Linked DNA regions of Homo sapiens. Each later gene encodes a partner of the first gene's protein in a complex. Each region holds a gene or a part of one and is shown in the gene's direction. Other genes may lie near its edges.

Region 1 (7,022 bases):
GAAGAGCAGCCGGCCTCCTGTACCGATCTCCAACGCGACCAAACGCAGTTTCCTAGGCAGCCCTGCTGCAGGGACCCTGGCTGAGCTGCAGCCCCCCGTGCAGCTGCCGGCGGAAGGCTGTCACAGGCACTACCTGCACCCGGAAGAACCTGAATACCTGTAAGTCTGTCTTTCTGCTTTCAGAATCAGTTCACCATCTTGTGTCCCTTTTTGTGTTAGTTTAAAATATTAATTGAAGTTACCTTTTTTAAAATAAGCAATTTGTATTCGCTTATGAAAGATTTTCCTTCTGTCCCTGCCCTTCTGGCCATTCGGTCCCCTTTCCAGAGGCCGGGAATGATACTAGCAGGAAGTTCCTTCAGGGATGTGTACCTAATTCTGACATTGTTTATGGAACAGGTGTTTTTCTGTTCTCTTTTCCACCATGTGTTACACTGTTTAAGAAACGATCTAAAGATTAGAAAGTTGAATTGACAGTTTAGGTGTGCTCTTTATGGTCTGATAGACATAAAGAGTGAAATCCTCTTGCATTTCAAGTATTGTGAAGTCTTCAAAGAAGAGAATTTGTTTGCTCTTTGGGGAAGAATTAATTTGATTCGAGTGAAAAAGTGTATAGAGCTGCTTAAAGGCTAAACTACTCTAGAAAAAGAGTTGTTTAAAAAACGTTTTTTCTAAAATGAATTTTCATCATGAAGACCTAATTTGGATAACCATATCTGGGGTAGAATTGACTGTGCCAGAATTGGGGGAGGGGGTGAAGGAAGCTTCCCTTGGAGTAAGAGTGAGCTTTGTGCTGTGTGTGGTAGGAGGACCCACAGCTGATGCCAGCCTGGAGCCAGTTAGCACACCGAAAGTGGAGAAACATTTTTAACATGTGGCGATTTAAGTTGGGATTTAAGATGAAGACGCTATTTAAAAGTGGTTTTAAATAATTCACATAAGTGAATGGTTCAGTGAGACAGCATGGCATAGAACGAACTCAGTTGTTTCAGGTTGTTTGAGAGGAGCTAAAACCGGTGACCATGTTGAGGGATGGGATGCGGGGGCTGCCGGAGTCAGGAGGAAGGAGTTGAGAGGCCCTTGTGATACAGGCAGTGGTGGGGGGGTACACACCCAGGGGTGGGGCATAGCTGAGGGAGGGGTTTGGATGTGTTCTGTGTTGGGCGGCTTTGAGACTGGGGTGTCTGTCCCCAGAGCTCAGAGCAGAGGTGGGGCGGTAACTCCATGCCCGCGGGCACAGGCGGGGTCACTGAGTGAGGAGAATGGCTCGAGGCTGAGCCGTCCCTCACATGGGGCCAGCGTGGACACTTGGCGTCCTCCCTTCGGTCTTTGCGTGTCTGTTGTTGAGCCGTGTGTGTGTGTGTGTGTGTGCTGGTGCCCGTGTACACGCTGCTCTGTGACCTGCTGTCTGCACCCTGTTGTCTGCACCCAGCAGCCTGTGGTGAGAATTTTCCCACTCGGTGCATCCTCGTCTGCCACAGTTTCAACAGCTACCCAGTCTGTCACGTCATGGGCGTGCCGTGATGGGTCCACTGTCCCCACGGTGTCCAGGCTGCAGGGTTTGCATTGTGGCCCTGACACAGGTCCCTGTGCCATTCCTGCTCTGCCCAGCTTCCCCCCGGGCTCCCTGCCTTGAGCCCCTCTCTCCGCAACCCTTTCGCTTGTGTGCTCCTGCACACCTGCTCTCACTGTGTCTCTTTGGTGTCTGTGTCCTGACTCTGGTGTCCTCTGCCCGTCTTTGCCTCTTCAGGCCTAGGTGTGCTGACTCTGGCCTAGGGTGCCGAGCTGTCCCCTGTGATCTCCCCAGCCTGTCTGCACCTGGCGAATTATCCCTTTACCAAATTCTCCCCAAAGTGAAACAAGCAAGATAGCTGCCCTGCAGTGTGAGCGCGCTTGTTTCTCGGGGAGCTGGTGCCTGTGGAGTGGCAGAGGCTGCTGGGTGCCGGTCTCATGGGTGTTGCTCTGTCAGAACTGTGCGATCCGCACACGTGTGACTTCCGCCTTTCCTGCATGTGCCGTTCTTCCCGGGAGTGAGGCCTTCACACCCATGCTTCTGTGTGCACCTCTCATCGTTCTTTCTCTTAAGCTATAATCCAAGGAGTGGTAAAGGTGTGAGTGATTTTAGAGGTTTTTATGGATATTGCCATATTGTCCTCTAAAAATGTACATTTTTACCCTCCCACCAGCAGTGTGGGAATGTTCATGCTGCCGTCTGTGATGGGTTTAATTACTCATCAATATCTTCACAGTGGTGGCTTAGTACATTGGGCATCATCCTTGTGGTCTCTTTTATCTCTGAAGTTCTCTCTCTTTTTTTTAATTGAAGCAGTAATGTGCATTTTTGAAAACTGTTGCTTGTCAGAGGATCACTTTTTCTTTTTACTTTTGCTTATCTCAGAAAATCACTCTAATTGCACGCTTGGGTTTTGCTTTTCCCGTGGGAAGCTGGTTGTGTTGTAGACACATCGGGGAGTCAGTGTGCCCGTTTGCAGTGTGTGGATGTTCATCCCAGGTTGGAAGTTCCTGATACTCTTGGCTCATTTTTATTGTCATTTTTTTCCCAAACAGTCCGAGTTTCTCAAAACTTGGTGTGAATTCAGGATGGTCCTGTACACTTGTGCATTTGCTGTTGACCTTGAAGTTTGATAAAGGAATGATTTTCCCTGTAATTCTTTTTCCATTTAGCGGGAAAGGAACTGCTGCCTTCAGCCCATCCCATCCTTTATTGCCACTGAGACAGAAACAGCAGAAATCCATACAGGGAGAGGACATCCCTGGTAAGAATGTTGTTTCCTCCTTTTTTCCTTAATTTCTCCTTACTATAGATTAGTAAAATCATATTTCTCAAAATTAAATCATTTTATCTGATGTAGTGATTTTTTTGTTTGTTTGTTTGTTTTTTGAGATGGAGTCTTGCTCTGTCACCAGGCTGAAGTGCTGTGGCGCGATCTCGGCTCACTGCAGCCTCTGACTCCCTGGTTCAAGCAATTCTCCTGCCTCAGCCTCCCACATAGCTGGGATTATAGGCGCATGCCACCATGCTCAGTTAATTTTTGTATTTTTAGTAGAGACAGGGTTTCATCATGTCGGCCAGGATGGTCTCGATCTCCTAGCCTCATGATCTGCCCACCTCGGCCTCCCAGAGTGCTGGAATTACAGGTGTGAGCCACTGTGCCCGGCTGATGTAGTGATTTTAGTTAAGACTGTAGCCAAATAAATTTTAACTTGTGTTGTCAAAATGTATAGTCTTGCAGTGAAAATATCGTTGAGAGCAATTACCTTCTGTGTAGTAGACACAGAGTAACTGCGACATAAGCAGGGCTCACACATGCTGAAGCTCTCTCACAGTTCTGAACTGTGTGTTACCATCAAAATGTGGGACAACTGTATGGTTTTGCCTCTCTGCTTTCCATGCGGCCCTTCTGGTGTACTGACTTGAGAGGCATTTTTCTGGACAAATGGTCATATTGAAAGAATTTCAAGTGATAGAAAATTGGTTACTTAACACTATCTAATTCCTCTGTACTGCAGATCAGCGACATCGATCGAATTCTTTGACCCGAGTTGATGGTCAGCCTCGAGGAGCAGCAATAGCCTGGCCAGAAAAAAAAACCAGGTGAGTCTGTGTTTCAGCAGTGTTTCTGTTTGGAATGTTTTTTATACTAAACAGCAGTTCTTAAGATGTCACCCCAACCCCCTGAGGATCACCGAGACCCTTTTATAGGGAGTGCCTGAAATCAGAATTATTTTTATAACAACACTAGGAAGTTACTGCCTCTCTGCAGCCTCACTCTTGCGAGTGTGCCGTGGGATTTTTCAGAGGCTGCATACCATGTGGTGTGGCAGCAGGTGGAGTCAGGTATGAGGGTCCAGCCAGATCCCAGAACTATACAGGTGTCAAATAGTGCCTGCCCTTAACACTAGGAACTTCTTCCGTTCTGGCGAATATAGTCATTTGTCATGGAGTGGGCTAATTACTGTAATTTTAATCAGTGTTTAGAAAATGTCTGAGCTTTAATTTGTAGGATGATAAATAGAGATTAATACTGATAAATAGAAACAAAAGCTCTTTGAGGTCCTCAGTAATTTTGAAGGGTATCAAGAGGTCCTGGGACTAGAGTGTTTGAGAATCACAAAGCTGAAATTATCTCTGATTTTCTTCTGCTCTGTGGAAGAGTGAGTTTAAATCTCCTGCATATGAGAGGCGTATTCTCTTTGTGTGGCCGGCATTCTCACCCCCTGGTCCATGTTGGGGGTCTTTGGTGTATACCGCAGCGCACCCAGTGGGCCTTCCCTGTGTTTCAGGCCTGCGTCCCAGCCAACACCTTTTGCTCTACATCACGCTGCGAGTTGTGAAGTGGATCCCAGCTCTGGCGACAGCATCAGCTTGGCCCGCTCCATCAGCAAAGACAGTTTGGCATCCAACATTGTTAATCTGACCCCACAGAACCAGCCACACCCCACGGCCACGAAGAGCCACGGGAAGAGCCTCCTGAGCAATGTCAGTATTGAGGATGAGGAAGAGGAGCTTGTGGCTATTGTTAGAGCAGACGTGGTTCCCCAGCAGGCTGACCCGGAGTTCCCCAGGGCCTCACCCCGGGCCTTAGGCCTTACAGCAAATGCCCGGTCTCCCCAAGGACAGCTGGACACCTCGGAAAGTAAGCCTGACAGTTTTTTCTTGGAGCCTTTGATGCCAGCAGTTCTTAAGCCAGCGAAAGAGAAGCAGGTGATCACCAAGGAGGATGAACGGGGGGAAGGGAGACCGAGGAGCATCGTGTCTAGGAGGCCCAGCGAGGGCCCCCAGCCTTTGGTACGAAGGAAAATGACTGGCAGTCGCGACTTGAATAGGACTTTTACCCCGATTCCATGCTCAGAATTCCCCATGGGCATCGACCCCACCGAGACAGGACCACTGTCAGTGGAAACCGCAGGAGAGGTCTGTGGTGGGCCTCTGGCCCTTGGCGGATTCGATCCGTTCCCCCAGGGACCATCCACGGATGGCTTCTTCCTTCATGTAGGCAGGGCCGATGAAGACACCGAGGGAAGGTTATATGTTAGTTGTTCAAAAAGCCCCAACTCCCACGATTCAGAGCCGTGGACTCTCCTCAGGCAGGATTCTGACTCGGATGTGGTGGACATAGAGGAAGCCGAGCACGATTTCATGGGTGAGGCCCATCCTGTGGTTTTCAGCAGATACATTGGGGAGGAAGAGTCGGCCAAACTGCAGGAGGACATGAAGGTGAAGGAACATGAAGACAAAGATGACGCCAGCGGCCGCTCGAGCCCCTGCCTGAGCACAGCCTCTCAGATGAGCAGTGTCTCCATGGCGAGTGGGAGCGTGAAGATGACCAGCTTTGCGGAGAGGAAGCTCCAGAGACTCAACAGCTGTGAGACCAAGTCCAGCACCAGCAGCTCCCAGAAGACCACGCCAGATGCGTCTGAGAGCTGCCCAGCCCCTCTGACGACGTGGAGGCAGAAGAGGGAGCAGAGTCCGAGCCAGCATGGCAAGGATCCCGCCAGCCTCCTGGCATCTGAGCTGGTACAGCTGCACATGCAGCTGGAGGAGAAGCGCAGGGCCATCGAGGCCCAGAAGAAGAAGATGGAGGCGCTGTCGGCAAGGCAGCGCCTGAAGCTCGGCAAGGCTGCATTCCTGCATGTGGTGAAGAAGGGCAAGGCCGAGGCTGCCCCACCCCTCAGGCCGGAGCACTTTGCAAAGGAGTACTCTCAGCACAACGGGGAGGACTGTGGGGACGCTGTTTCCAAAACCGAAGACTTTCTCGTGAAGGAGGAGCAGAGAGAGGAGCTCCTTCACGAGCCACAGGATGTGGACAAAGAGAGCCTGGCCTTTGCTCAGCAACATAAAGCAAAAGACCCTGTGGCTCTGCACGAGCTGGAGAGAAATAAGGTGATCTCCGCTGCCCTCCTGGAGGACACTGTTGGGGAGGTTGTCGACGTGAATGAATGTGACCTTTCCATCGAGAAGCTTAACGAAACCATCAGTACGCTGCAGCAGGCCATCCTGAAAATCTCTCAGCAGCAAGAGCAGCTTCTGATGAAGTCCCCCACAGTCCCAGTGCCAGGCTCTAAGAATAACTCGCAGGACCACAAAGTGAAGGCACCAGTCCACTTCGTGGAGCCACTCTCTCCCACGGGCGTGGCTGGCCACCGCAAAGCCCCCCGGCTGGGTCAAGGCCGGAATTCCCGTTCCGGAAGGCCGGCGGAGCTGAAGGTCCCAAAAGACAGGCCACAGGGCTCCTCCCGAAGTAAAACCCCAACGCCCAGTGTAGAGACGCTCCCGCACTTGAGACCCTTCCCTGCCAGCAGCCACCCTCGGACGCCCACGGACCCTGGCCTGGACAGTGCCCTGGAGCCCAGTGGTGACCCACATGGGAAGTGTCTCTTCGACAGTTACAGGCTCCATGATGAAAGCAATCAGCGGACACTTACTCTGTCCTCTTCCAAAGATGCCAACATTCTTTCGGAGCAGATGAGCCTCAAAGAAGTTCTGGATGCGAGTGTGAAGGAGGTGGGGTCCAGCTCCTCAGATGTCTCGGGAAAAGAGAGCGTCCCCGTGGAGGAGCCTCTGAGGAGCAGGGCCAGCCTCATTGAAGTGGACCTCTCCGACCTGAAGGCCCCCGACGAGGATGGGGAGCTGGTAAGCCTCGATGGCTCGGCGGACCTTGTCAGCGAAGGCGACCAGAAGCCGGGGGTCGGCTTCTTCTTCAAGGTAAGGGATTGGTAGCATCTGTTTCAGGCACTCGTGATGTGTTGCCACCCCACGTGATAGTGAGTTAGAGAACACAGATCTGCACCAGGCTGGCCAGCCGCTCCTGTAAGAGGCCAGGGGATGTGTGTGTTTAGCTTTGTGGGCCACAGAGTCTCTGTCCCGAGGACTCCACTTGGCCAGAAGCAGTCCCGGGCAATACGCATGCAAGTGAGCGTGGTGTGGCTGAGACGACTTTGTTATGAGCCCTGAAACTGGAATTTCATGTGATTTTCAACATAGTTTTTTTTTTTTTGCT
Region 2 (7,064 bases), on another chromosome or scaffold:
CCTCTGCCTCCAGGCTTCAAGCGATTCTCCTGCCTCAGCCTCCCGAGCAGCTGGGATTACAGGCGCCCGGCATCACGCCTGGCTAATTTTTGTATTTTTAGTAGAGACGGGGTTTCACCACGGTCTCGAGCTCCTGACCTCAGGTGATCCGCCCACCTTGGCCACCCAAAGTGTTGGGATTACAGCAGTGAGCAACCGCGCCCGGCCTCAAATGTCACTTTCTCAGCAAACCCTTTCCTGGCGTGTTCCCTGCCTTCTCGTGTTCCTGGTGTATCCTGCCTGTTCCACAGTGGTCAATGGATTTGTGCTTACTCTAAGATCTCTCGCTATATTGTAACCATTACTTTCCATTTCTGCCTTCACACTCACCCACCTCCAGGACTGGATTAGGGGAACCGTGTCTTTCCCCTAGGGTCCATCATATTCATTCAATGGTTATGGTATACCTGTTTGAAGTATTTGGTATACATCTGTGAACCAAACATGAAATCGACCCTGCCCTCGGGAAGGCTCATCACCGAGCCTACTGATGAAGGAACAAATGAGATGGAAAGAAAATAGCATAAATGGAATTCACCTGAAAATATGCCACTCTAGAGGGAAACTGTTGACAGGTAGGGAAAGTAGGATGCCCCATGGATAAAGTGTCAACTCCGTCTTTATGACAGGCCAACTCAGCGGGTGCCCACCACGCTTGGCTCCAATTCAAAGAGCCACCATCTTTGGTCCCCACCTCAGTGGGTTCCCTTGTGGCCCGACGTCTCCCTGTGTCTTCATACCTAAACTCGGAGCGGGGCGCCAGGTAAGGATGAGTATTACAGTCCGAGAAGCGAACTTCCAAGTCACCTCCGCCCAGTCGCACCCAAGGTACGCCCCTCCCGCCTTCTGGGGGAACCAAGATGGCTCCCGGGGAGCCGTGGGCCAGGCCCCTAGAACTCACCTACTTTAAGTCCCCGCGCGCGCCACCAGTAACGGTCGCGACCCAGGTGGAGCGACTGCGTGTGCCGAAAAAGAGCTTATTTGCTGATTGGCTTCTGCCGCTGTCTTTCACAACCGCAGCCAGTCGAGCGGAGGCACACCCAAAGCCCCGCCCCCTTAGAGTTCAAATAGGTGGTGTCTCCCAGGCTGCTGAGATCAGTTAATGAGACGGTAATTGAAGGCCGCCGTGCGCCAACAGAATAATGCACGTCGATTGGGCAGCTCCAAGGGACAACCCACTACCGCTTGCCCGCCCACCACCCACTTCCCGCGCAGTTCCAAACCGCGACCAGAGAGTCTGGCGCCAGCTGCCGGCAACGGATAGAGGGGCTGTGTCATAGACGTCCGACGTGTCTGGTAAGGCCAGAGCGCCTTTCCTCGGTCCTCCTAGACATGGTGTCCGCTGACTCATGAGAAATGAAAGTGGGTTGCGCGTTGCAGTCGTGGCTGGAGGCTGCAGTTTGGAGAACAGCCCGTAGGCGTGGCAGTTCACTCCTGTTGCATTGGAATTTCATTTCCTTTTGATTTGGTTTGTAGTAGAAGTAATATCTTTCTTCCTGGGAATACGTCTCTGACGGACATTTTGAGGTCATTTTCTTAAATCCAAGATCCTAAAGATCTGTAGTCGAACAGAGAAAACTGGTTTGCTCTCTGTCTTAAAGGCTGTCCCCACCTTTCGAGGGGCGAGGGAAGGATCATAAAATCATTTATTTTTATTTTTTAATTAACTAATTTATCTATTTTTTGAGATGGAGTTTTGCTCTTGTTGCCCAGGCTGGAGTGCAATGGCGCGATCTCGACTCACCGCAACCTCTGCCTCCCAGGTTCAAGCGATTCTCCTGCCTCAACCTCCCAAGTAGCTGGGATTACAGGCATGCGCCACCACGCCCAGCTTATTTTTGTATTTTTAGTAGAGACGTGGTTTCTCCATGTTGGTCAGGCTGGTCTCGAACTTCTGACCTCAGGTGATCCGCCCGCCTCGGCCTCTCAAAGTGGTGGGATTACAGGCGTAAACCACCGCATGCGGCCATCTATATTTTATTTTTTGAGACGGACTTTCGCTCTTGTTGCCTAGGCTGGAGTGCAATGGCGCGATCTCGACTCACCGCAACCTCCGCCTTCTGGGTTCAAGCAATTCTCCTGTCTCAGCCTCCCGAGTAGCTGGGATTACAGGCATGCGCTACCACGCCCGGCTAATTTTGTATTTTTAGTAGAGACGGGGTTTCTCCATGTTGGTCAGTCTGGTCTCAAACTCCGGACCTCAGGTGATTCTCCCGCCTGGGCCTCCCAATGTGCTGGGATTACAGGCGTAAGCCACTGCGCCCGGCCTATTTTATCTCACAATAAGACATGAAGAAAATGGTAACTATAACACTTGCATAATTCATAAAGTCCTTTCTGTTGGTTATCTCAATTCTGTGCACAACAGTCAAATAAGCAGATTTTACAAACGAGGAGCTGGAGCCCTGCAAAGTTAAAGGACTTTCCTAGGATCCTACAGCTAATATAGAGACAAATTGAAACAAGTTATCTGATTGTGTATTTTGAGTTATTTCTACTCCCACAAAATGACTGTGTTCATTTCCCTAAAACGTAAAGCATTATATTTTAAGTGGGTAGAGAGGGCTTACACAAGTTGATGTTCCCTCATTTAGAAGGCAACTTAGAAATACATTGATCTGCCCAGCGCGGTGGCTCACGCCTGTAATCCCAGCACTTTGGGAGGCAAAGGCGGGCGAATCACGAGGTGAGGAGATCGAGACCATCCTGGCTAACACAGTGAAACCCTGTCTCTACTAAAAATACAAAAAAAAAAAAAAGAAATACATTGATCTGTGTGATCGAATGTGAATTAACAATGACGTTGACTTGATACTACATTTCTGAGTGGTTACCACATTTTATTGATTGTATGCTTCTCACCAGACTGCAACATCCTGGAGGACAGGGAGCTAATTCTTAATCATTTTGTAACCATAGCTCCTAATTTGGTGGATACATAGTAACTATCAAATAAGTGAATAATAAATCTATGGGAAGAAGCAGATGGACTCCGTCTTGAACCCACTCAATTTTTCCCCCATCAATTACCCCTCTCTCGTTTTTCAATACTGGGTCTCTTGCAGAGTTGCAGTGGCGGCCACCTGGTCAGTGAAATCAGCGAATTGAAAAACCACTGACTTCATTAACATGTCTAAAGAGGCAGGCTGAAAAAACTGAAAATCTATCAGGCATCTCATTCCATAGTTCCCTGTTTGACAAGAAGACCAAGGTGTCTTCAAAGTCTGCCCTAAGGTCCAGATCTCCTACCCACGTAGGAGACTTCTAGTTTCACAAATCCCCGATGTCGGTTTCTCTAAACTATTTTATTCTTTGAACATACTCTCCAGACAACATCGCTATCCTGAAAAGCCCTTGCTGCAATTTTGTTTCTCTTTCAAAACAATGGCTCGAAAATTTCCAAGGAAATAGCAAGAGGGCGATTCCCTTCTTGAAGTATTTGAGGGAGCAGAAGCTTACTGAAGTTCATGCCTTGGGTCACCAAAGGCCAGGGGAGGCAGAGCACGGTGCCAGACTTCTCCCCATTTTTCGCTGAACTAAGCAATCCTTTCTCCCCTAGAGGTACTGCAGCTGGGAGCTTTCAGGGCGTGTCTTCCCCACCACCCAACTTCTGGAACCCCAGACTTCTCAATTCCTGTACCCCCAAGAACTGCTCACTTTTTGTACAAAAACCTCAGGCATAGAGGAAAGGAATCTTGCGCAAGGTCGTTTTTCATTTACAAAACAAAAACCCCATGAAAACCAAACCGGTACCCACCCATTCGTCACTTCATTTTGCAGCATGGACAACAATAGGGGACTACAACTCCCAAAGAGGACTGCGCTCGTCCACTGGCTCAGAGGCCAATGGACGCCTGGTACATGACCGGCATCGACTAATCAGGGCCAGGCTCGATGAGGCTTTGTCTCCCTACCGCGCGCGGGGCCGATTCTCCCGCCTCCCAGCCCCGGCGCACGCGCGCCCCGCCCAGCCTGCTTTCCCTCCGCGCCCTCCCCTCTCCTTTCTCCCTCTCAGAACCTTCCTGCCGTCGCGTTTGCACCTCGCTGCTCCAGCCTCTGGGGCGCATTCCAACCTTCCAGCCTGCGACCTGCGGAGAAAAAAAATTACTTATTTTCTTGCCCCATACATACCTTGAGGCGAGCAAAAAAATTAAATTTTAACCATGAGGGAAATCGTGCACATCCAGGCTGGTCAGTGTGGCAACCAGATCGGTGCCAAGGTAAGAATTTTACACCTCTTTTATTTCTTTTTACAAGGAAAAATCCAGGTAAGTTATGAAAAAATGGTTGTGGGGCATTTGCACCCGCTATCCTTAATCAAGATTTGCCCCTCTCAAGTTTGTTACATTTATATATATAACAATTGTAGCTAGCATTTGCCTTTGGAAAGCTGGGAATCATTTTTCTTGGCAGGCACATTTTGGAGAAACTAGTAAAAGGGCTCTTCGGGTTTGGGGGCGGGAAGACCGAGGACTTATAAGATGTTACTTAAAAGGGCTTCTAACGGTCCGAGAACCGGGCAGGGAGAGAGATGCGGAAACGGTCGCAGACAAAGCGGGGCGAGGTTTTGCCCATGTGCATCCCGCCCAACCCCCCTGCGGGGTACTTAGGGCCAAACCGGAGCGGGAAGGGGTGAGGCCATCGGGCGGCTGCAGAGAGCTCCAGCGCAAGGGTGGGGGGCGATGCGCCAGGGTGGGCTGCGCTGGGCGCTACCTTTCACAAAAGACCAGGGACCCCAACGCGCCCGCGACCCCAGAGGGCCGGTCCTGTATTTGTTCCTGGGTGGAAGGAGAATAAGAACGGGATTAATTTTACTTGCTTTCATGGCCCCTAAGAGAGACTTTTTTAGGGCGTGAACAGATATGTCGAGAAAATGGGGGTGTGTGGTTTTCTTTAATGAGTCCCTCAGGACTTAATGGGAGAGAAAGAATCCTTTAAATCAAGGGGTAGAAATGTAGCGAAGGAATAAAAATTCCGAGGCCAAGGGGGATTTTTTTTTTTTGCGCGCGGTTACAGTGTAGCGGGGGAGGGGCGGGAGGAAGTGCGGCTGCTACGTTGTAGCAGAAGGGCGGGGCCCTGCGGGGCGGGGCCGGGGCGCCGTGGGCGCGCGGGGACAATGCGGCGTTGCCCGCCGGCAGGGGCGCGCTACCTTGGGCCCCGCCCCTCGCGCGCGGAATTTTTGTCCCTGGCCCCGCCCACGCGCGAAGTCTTTTGTCGGCGGCTCGACCTGCGCGTGCGCCGCAGTCACGTGGAGGGCGGGGGGGGTGGTCGACTGCGGCGGCAGCTCTTTCCTCAGACCCCCAGCCTTTTGTGCGCCGCGCGGTGGGGCGGTGCCCAGCTTGGGGGAAGGAGAGCGGCGCTTATCGAAGTGTGGTCGACCTCCATCCGCCCACCGAGCACTTGGGACCCGCTGCACATATCCAGAGCAGGGAAAGCTGTGGCTTTCTCGGGGGAGCGAGTGTCTAGGGGAAGGGTGTGGCAGGCCCACGGGATGCCATGCCCTAGAACAACGGCCTGAGCGCTTGTGGAATTAAAATGGGAGATGTGGGGCCGAGGTGGGCGAATTGGGATCCCTCCAGGTCAGGGGTTCGAGACCATCCTGGGCAACAAAGCGAGACCCTCCCCCATGCCACGTTTCTACAAAAAATAAAAGTAAAAAATTAGCTGGGCGTGGTGGCGCGCGTCTGTGGTCCCAGCTACTCGAGAGGCTGAGATGGGAGGATCGGTTGAGCCTGGGAGTTCCACGCTGTAGTCATCCGTGATTGCACCACTGCACTGCAGGCTGGGCAACAGGAAGACCCTGTCTTAAAAATTAGAAGAAGCTGGGCGCGGTGGCTCACCCTTGTAATCCCAGCACTTTGGGAGGCCAAGGTGGGCGGATCACGAGGTCAAGAGATCTAGACCATCCTGGCCAACATGGTGAAACCCGTCTCTACTAAAAATACAAAAAGTAGCTGGGCGTGTTGGTGCGCGCCTATAGTCCCAGCTACTCCGGGGGCTGAGGCAGGAGAATCGCTTGAACCCGGGAAGCAGAGGTTGCAGTGAGCCGAGATAGCGCCACTGCACTCCAGCCTGGTGACAGAGCGAGACTCCGTCTCAAAAAAAATTAAGAAAAAGATGAAATAAAATGGTAGTTGGGGACATAGTTGGCTGGGACTTGACCTGTTGTGGTCTCGTTGCTCCCCCTCGGCAGTTCTGGGAGGTGATCAGTGATGAACATGGCATCGACCCCACCGGCACCTACCACGGGGACAGCGACCTGCAGCTGGACCGCATCTCTGTGTACTACAATGAAGCCACAGGTAAGGGCAGGAGCCCGGGCAGCTCAGGTTCCCTTCCCTGTCTCCCACTTATCTGGGATCTCTTTCCATTTCTGGGCACGCCTTATCCCCTTTGGGTGAATCTGTCATTTTGTCCCTTTCGTGAACCACCGTCGGGGCCAAAGACGTCTGCTGCCACCTGGTGGCGGGACCTGGAATGACAAGTCTCTGATCCCTGCTGTCTCCCATTTCCAGTATATCTATAAACCTTCCCTTCTGCCAGATTTCACAGCTCTTAACTTTATTCTCTGTAGGTGGCAAATATGTTCCTCGTGCCATCCTGGTGGATCTAGAACCTGGGACCATGGACTCTGTTCGCTCAGGTCCTTTTGGCCAGATCTTTAGACCAGACAACTTTGTATTTGGTGAGTTATACAGATGATATTAGCAGATGATATACCATCGTGTTCAACTTATTTGGGTGCAAGGACACAGCAAAAGTTAGGAGATGATTGTTGTATTGGAGTGCTAATACAGAAATGTGTTCTGAAATCTAACGGAGGGTAGAGGTAGTGCCTACTATTGCTGGTAAATTATGGGGCAGTAGGGGGAGAATATATCACAGTGAAGGAGAAAGAAGATACATCCGAGGGAATTATTTGAAAAGTTGAAAGATGGAAACATCATGTATCTTCCATACCCTGTTAATTGAGCTTTTCTCCTGACTGCATTCCAGGTCAGTCTGGGGCAGGTAACAACTGGGCC

The links. The genes of interacting proteins can lie anywhere in the genome.
Region 2: the proteins of CAMSAP1 (region 1) and TUBB are in contact, whole or in part, in a cryo-EM structure (PDB 6QUS), measured with the Homo sapiens proteins. Residues at the interface, in NP_056262.3 of Homo sapiens: Cys1486, Cys1487, Leu1488, Ala1489, Gly1490, Lys1491, Val1492, Asn1493, Ala1519, Gly1520, Cys1521, Gln1522, Arg1562, Lys1563, Gln1564; in NP_821133.1 of Homo sapiens: Arg306, His307, Gly308, Arg309, Asn332, Asn335, Lys336, Ser338, Ser339, Tyr340, Glu343, Gln426.

Annotation. Positions count from the first base shown.
Region 1 is NC_000009.12:135,820,544-135,827,565, reverse strand, and holds part of CAMSAP1 (calmodulin-regulated spectrin-associated protein 1), read left to right. Parts: coding exon 1-159; intron 160-2,685; coding exon 2,686-2,777; intron 2,778-3,531; coding exon 3,532-3,616; intron 3,617-4,305; coding exon 4,306-6,727; intron 6,728-7,022. UniProt on the Homo sapiens protein: Key microtubule-organizing protein that specifically binds the minus-end of non-centrosomal microtubules and regulates their dynamics and organization. Specifically recognizes growing microtubule minus-ends and stabilizes microtubules.
Region 2 is NC_000006.12:30,716,305-30,723,368, forward strand, and holds the start of TUBB (tubulin beta chain), read left to right. Parts: upstream 1-4,047; 5' UTR 4,048-4,202; coding exon 4,203-4,259; intron 4,260-5,333; exon of another isoform or gene 5,334-5,574; coding exon of another isoform or gene 5,575-5,691; intron 5,692-6,232; coding exon 6,233-6,341; intron 6,342-6,613; coding exon 6,614-6,724; intron 6,725-7,035; coding exon 7,036-7,064. Other genes in the region: MDC1 (mediator of DNA damage checkpoint protein 1), read right to left, coding at 578-637. UniProt on the Homo sapiens protein: Tubulin is the major constituent of microtubules, a cylinder consisting of laterally associated linear protofilaments composed of alpha- and beta-tubulin heterodimers.